Linked DNA regions of Homo sapiens: region 2 is linked to region 1. Evidence: fine-mapped expression QTL. A gene starts in region 1. The other region holds a variant in brackets. All regions are shown on one strand. Distances are from middle to middle. Region 1 holds the start of YWHAG (tyrosine 3-monooxygenase/tryptophan 5-monooxygenase activation protein gamma). Region 2 overlaps SSC4D (scavenger receptor cysteine rich family member with 4 domains).

The links. PIP is the estimated chance that this variant, and not a neighbour inherited with it, causes the effect.
Region 2: its variant is the best candidate, but not a certain one, in a credible set for the expression of YWHAG in whole blood (TOPMed, PIP 0.54).

Annotation. Positions count from the first base shown.
Region 1 is chr7:76,357,689-76,360,188 of GRCh38, forward strand. It overlaps YWHAG (tyrosine 3-monooxygenase/tryptophan 5-monooxygenase activation protein gamma), which reads right to left and starts at 1,303. Exons shown (of 2, transcript NM_012479.4): 1 at 1,034-1,303. The coding sequence starts at 1,120. RefSeq lists silencers at 434-624, 708-907, 1,228-1,637 and an enhancer at 732-1,378.
Region 2 is chr7:76,397,893-76,400,904 of GRCh38, forward strand. It overlaps SSC4D (scavenger receptor cysteine rich family member with 4 domains), which reads right to left. Exons shown (of 11, transcript NM_080744.2): 4 at 2,394-2,699; 5 at 828-905. It also overlaps a transcript of ZP3 not described here. Among named protein-coding and RNA genes, the nearest start is that of SSC4D, 10 kb to the right of the region's middle. The variant T/C (reference allele first, on the strand shown) is at 1,376.

The DNA of each region.
Region 1 (2,500 bases):
TTTTAAAAAGACTTTTTCCCCTTTAAAATAACTCCTCCCAGCCTCCACCCAGTCTAGGCTCTCTGCAATATGACAAATGCAGAATCTTCTGGAATGACTTGATACTGCCTCTCACCACGGCTTTGTTTGCACTATCAGATCAGACAGAATATTTTTTCCCCCAACTTATAGGAATTTCAACAGACGCGTGCCTGTATTCAAAAAAGAAACGGCATATGTCACACGAATCGAACCAGTCAGCTACATTCACCACCTTTTAATTTTACAGGCAATACCTACCCTTTTCAATACAAAAACATTAGGGAATAAAATGGAGATGACATGTTGAGAATGATCAATGAAAACGCTAGCGAGACAAACGTTCTCCCTTCCTAAAAGCCGGAGGACTTGCTTTGGGCGAATGGAGAAAGAAGAGCCTTTTGTTAAGAAAAACGTGAGCAAGGTGGTTTCGATTTTGCACCACGGAGCTCAGGTTTTCAAGAGACCCTATACAATGTTTCTGGGAAGATTCTCAGGGATGTGTCGGGACAGACAGTGGGGAAGATTCTGGGGGGGCTGGGGAGGTGGAAAACCGGGAGACCTGCTGAGTGAATGGGAAAGGCGCCGCCCAGACACCAGGGAGAGAAAGAGGAACCGCATCCATGCGGTCCCCCGCCCCCACGCCCAGGCTAGGAGGAGGGGGGAAGTGGGGCACAAAGGATGCGCACGCCTCCCCGCTCGGGTCCCCTGCACCCCTAGAGCCGCGGGGGCCGGAGACCCCGCTCCCAAGTCCAGCCCCGCGGGACCTCGCCCCGGCCCGCGCCCGCGCCGGGCCTGAATGGCAGCGCCGCGGGGCCACGGGGACTCCGAAAAGAGGCCGCGTCACAGCCCGGGTTCCCGTCGCCTCTCGGGACCCTCCCCAGCCCCCCTCAGTGAGCGAGACGGGGCGGTCAACCCGCCATCGCGACAGGGCGACGAAGCCCCGGGCCTTCCACGCCAAGGACCGCGTCTTCGGAGGGGCAGGGAGCGGCGGGGGAGGGGAGGAGACACTCACGTTCTTCATGGCCGCGGCCATGTCGTCGTAGCGCTCCGCCTGCTCGGCCAGCCGGGCTTTCTGCACCAGTTGCTCGCGGTCCACCATCTTCGCGGGGCTGGGTCTGGCCGGAGAAGGAGGAGGACACTGGGGCGGCCTGAAGGGCTTGGAGGGCGCGACTGGAGCCCAAGTGCCGGAGAGGACCGACCCACAGAGCGAGCAGCTGAGGCGGCGGCTGCGCGGAGGAGGCGGCTGGAGCTGCGACCGCGGGACCGGGCGCGAGGCGGCTGCGGCTGCTGTGCGTGCCACTGACGGACAACCCCCTGCGGCCCCGCCCACGCCGCATGACGAAGGCAGGCCCCGCCCACCCGTCCGCAAGCCCCGCCCATGCCCCGCCCGAGCCCGGCCGCGGCTAGAACTCCCCGCTCCCCAGCTGGGCTCACTGCGCGTCTTCCGGGCACCCCGTCCTTTCCCACTGCGCCCCCACTCTCCCCTTTTTTCACTTCACTCCCCAGTTCCCTCACCCCAGCTTCTCCAGTCGCCCCCTTACGCCTCCCCCTTGAGCCTCCCGCCCCGCCAGCCCTCGGACGCATGGGCCCCTGGGAGTTGTAGTGTAACCTGCAGTGCACTGAGGCGCTGAGGAGACCAAGGACAAAGGGGCGGTCAAGACTACAACTCCCAGCGGACATAGCGCGCAGGCGCAGGAGGACGGGGGGGGGTGCTTCGAATCCCGAGGCCGCTGGGGACCCCTGGCGGGGATCAGGGCTGCATCAGTCCCTGCGAGTGCTGATTCACCGCCCCGCCCCATATTCTCCGGGAAATTACGAGAGGAGGGGGCAGGGGCCTCAGTCCTAGACCCTGTTTCCGAGATCACGTAGCAGGTCGTGGTGGGGGAAGGACAGGAGGCGCGTCCATTGTAGATCCAGACTCTCAGTGTGGTGCCTGCCCGCGGGATGGCCGAATTAAGGGGCCAGACCCTGGGGACTGTCACCTCCACCCCCTACGAGCTTCCATTAAACCCCCCACCCCACCTTGAGGCTCTTGGGCCTGAATAGGTGAAAACATGGACGAACGACAAATACCGGCTGGCCACAGTGGTTGATTTCCAGAAAGGATGCAGCTGTCTGCTGGCTGACCCTGGAGAACCCCTTCTTCCTCTCCAGGGTGGAGTGCTAAAGATTGAGTTCAGCTACCAGGAGCCTACTCCACATCTAACTGGGCTGCGTCTAGGGCTTGGTTGTCCAGCCCTTCTCTCCCCTCCTAAGACATACATACCTACTGAGGTCACGCTGATATATTCTCGTTCATATTATTCCACATAGCTTGCAGATAGCATGGGTTTTTTTGCTTTGTTTTGCTTTTTTGTAGAGACGGGGGTCTAGCTTTGTTGCCCATGCTGGTCTCGAACTCCTGGGCTCAAGCGATCCTCACGCCTCGGCCTCCCAAGGTGCTGGGATTACAGATGTGAGCCACCATGCCTGCAGGCCT
Region 2 (3,012 bases), 40 kb after region 1:
GCAAGGGCAGCCCGGTGTCCCAGGATCTACAACCCTTGGGCATCTGCTCACCCCGCTGCCCAGGGTACCGCCTCCTTGGTCCAGACTGGGGGTAGCTTGTGGGATCATAGTATCATTTCTGCCTAAAACCAACCCCCCTACCCTGCTCCCTGTCTCCTGGCAGCCTGGGACGTGCTGCCTTCTCATCTACTGCAAATGACATCCTCAAGATACAGCCCCACACCTCTTCCTCCAGGAAGCCTTCCCTGATCTCCTGAGGAACGGGACCCTCTTCCACCTCTGGACTTCTTTGCCTCTTTCACTGTCCCTCTTTTAGAGCACTTTTCATTTTCTTCTTCTAGTCATGATCATCATTCTTGGGCTCATCTGACCTTCCTGTGAGATTAAGCTCCAGTCTCACCGCCCATTCATTTTCTATTTTTTTTTTTTTTTTTTGAGACAGGGTCTCACTGTGTCCCCCAGGCTAGAGTACAGTGGCATGATCTTACTGCAACCTCTGCCTCCCGGGTTCAAGTGATCCCCCTGCCTCAGCCTCCCAAGTAGCTGGGACTACAGGAATATGCCACCACGCCTGGCTAATTTTTGTATTTTTTGTAGAGACAGGGTTTCACCATGTTGGCCAGTCTGGTCTGGAGCTCCCAACCTCAAGTGATCCGCTGGCCTCGGCCTCCCAAAGTGCTGGGATTACAGGTGTGAGCCACCATGCCCAGCCATTTTCTCTAACTTTACATCTTCAATTTGTAATCCCTGTCTTCCCACTGCCTAGGGTAGGGTGTGAGAGACTCCTCTCCCAAAACCCAGGTGGTGCCCACATTATGCTTACGTACTTTTTCCATTCGGCAGTGTCGTAGGAGGTGCTCTACTGGTTAACATCTTCCTTGTTGGGGGCTGCGTTGGCAAGAATTCTGGAAAGGAAGTGAAGTGGATACAGGGGTCTTTCTGTTCTCCATCCTCACACCACGGGGTGTTTAAGGGGCAGGAGGATGGACCCATAAGGTGCTTGCCGCCAGAGCCTCTGGCCACACAAAGAGTCACAGCCAGGAACACTGGGGTATGAGAGGAGAGGGTCCACACCAGAGTCCTGGACTCCTCTAAAGCACGGTTTTTGTTGTTGTTTTTTATTTTATTTTATTTTTTGAGATGGAGTCTTGCTCTGTCGCTCAGGCTGGAGTGCAATGGTGCAATCTCAGCTTGCTGCAACCTCCGCCTCCCTGGTTAAAGCAATTTGCCTGCCTCAGCCTCCTGAGTAGCTGGGATTACAGGTGCCTGCCACCATGCCCAGCTAATTTTTTGTATTTTTAGTAGAGATGGGGTTTCACCATGTTGGTCAGGCTGGTCTTGAACTCCTGACCTCAGGTGATACACCTGCCTCGGC[T/C]TCCCAAAGTGCTGGAATTACAGGCATGAGCCACCGTGCCCAGCCTGAAGCACAGTTCTTAAAGCAGTTCACCTCCCTTGGGAACTGTTAGCGATGCAGATTCTCAGGCCCCATCCAGACCTGCAGAATCAGAAACTCTGGGATTGGGCCTCAATCTGTGTTTTCATGAGACCCCCTGATTTTCTTGAAAACTAGAAGCACTGCTCTCAGTTTCCGCTGCAGCTCTATGCCACGTGGAGCGCATGGCCAGTGTGACCCCAATAGTCGTTTTTTTCTTTGTTTTTCGAGACAGGATCTTGCTCTGTCACCCAGGCTGGAGTGCAGTGTCACAATCACGGCTCACTGCAGCCTTGACCCCCCCAGACTCCAGCGATCCTCCCTCCTCTGCCTCCCAAGTAGCTGGGACCGCCCCCAACACCTTGCTAATTTTTCTGATTTTTCGTAGAGATAAGGTACTATGTTCCCAAGATGGTCTCAAACTCCTGGGCTCAAGCAATCTTGCCACCTTGGCCTCCCAAAGTGCTGGAGTTACTGGCATAAACCACCATGCCCGGCTGATTGTCTGGTTTTAAAACTAGGAGAGGGGAACCAGTGGGGTGACTTGGACCTGTAGTTCCAGCTACTGAGGCGGGAGAATCCCTTGAGCCCAGGAGTTTGAGGCTGCAGTGGGCTATGATCACACCACTGCACTCTGGTCGGGACCAAACAGTGAGACCTCATCTCCAAAATCTCTAAAAAAATTTTTTTTAAAGGGAGAGGGGCTCTGCTGGGACAATCAAAGCCTTACATAGAAGCAGTAGTGCTGGTTTTCTTTTGGTCCAAGGTCAGGGTCAGGCAATGACCCAGAAGAATCCCTGGGACCCAGGCTGGGGTTCTTCCCTGGCACCAGGCATTGTAGCCTCTGGCCTGATCTGCATGGAACAGCCTTACCTGTGGGAAGTCCCTTCATTTATCTAGCCTACAGCCCTGCTGCCTGCCACAGTCTGTCTGTCCCTCCAGGTCCCAGGGCTCCACTCACCATCACACAGGACAGCCACATCCTCGTAGTGAAAGCAATTGTGGACGCCCCAGCCGCGGCTGCCGCACTCGCTCAGCGCAGCTTCCTGCCCGCGGCACTCCACGTTGTCCAGCAGGATGGGGCCTCGGCCTTGGCCAAAGGCAAGGGGCCGTGGCACGGGCAGTGCCAGGCCACAGCCCAGCTGGCGACACACTACGTTGGCGTCCACCACGTCCCAGTCGTCATCACAGACGCTGCCCCAGGAGCCACCGTGCATGACTTCCAGGCGGCCCCGGCAGCGGCTGGGGCCCCCCACCAGCCTCAGCTCTGTGAAGAGGGTGGAGCTGGCACCAGGGGGTCACTGAGTCCAACCTCCAGCATGCCCACTCCAGGATGTCCTTTTATTTTATTATTATTTTTTTTGGTAGAGACGGGGTCTCACTATGTTGCCAAGGCTGGTCTCAAACTCCTGGGCTCAAGTGATCCTCCTGCCTTGGCCTCCCAAAGCGCTAGGATCACAGACGTGCACTACGGGACCCAGCCAGGTTACCCGCTTTGCCATGAAGCCATGGGAACCTTGGGATCAATCCCTTCTGGAAAATGGGGAGACTACAGCTCCCCTGAGATGGGGGCATCTAGA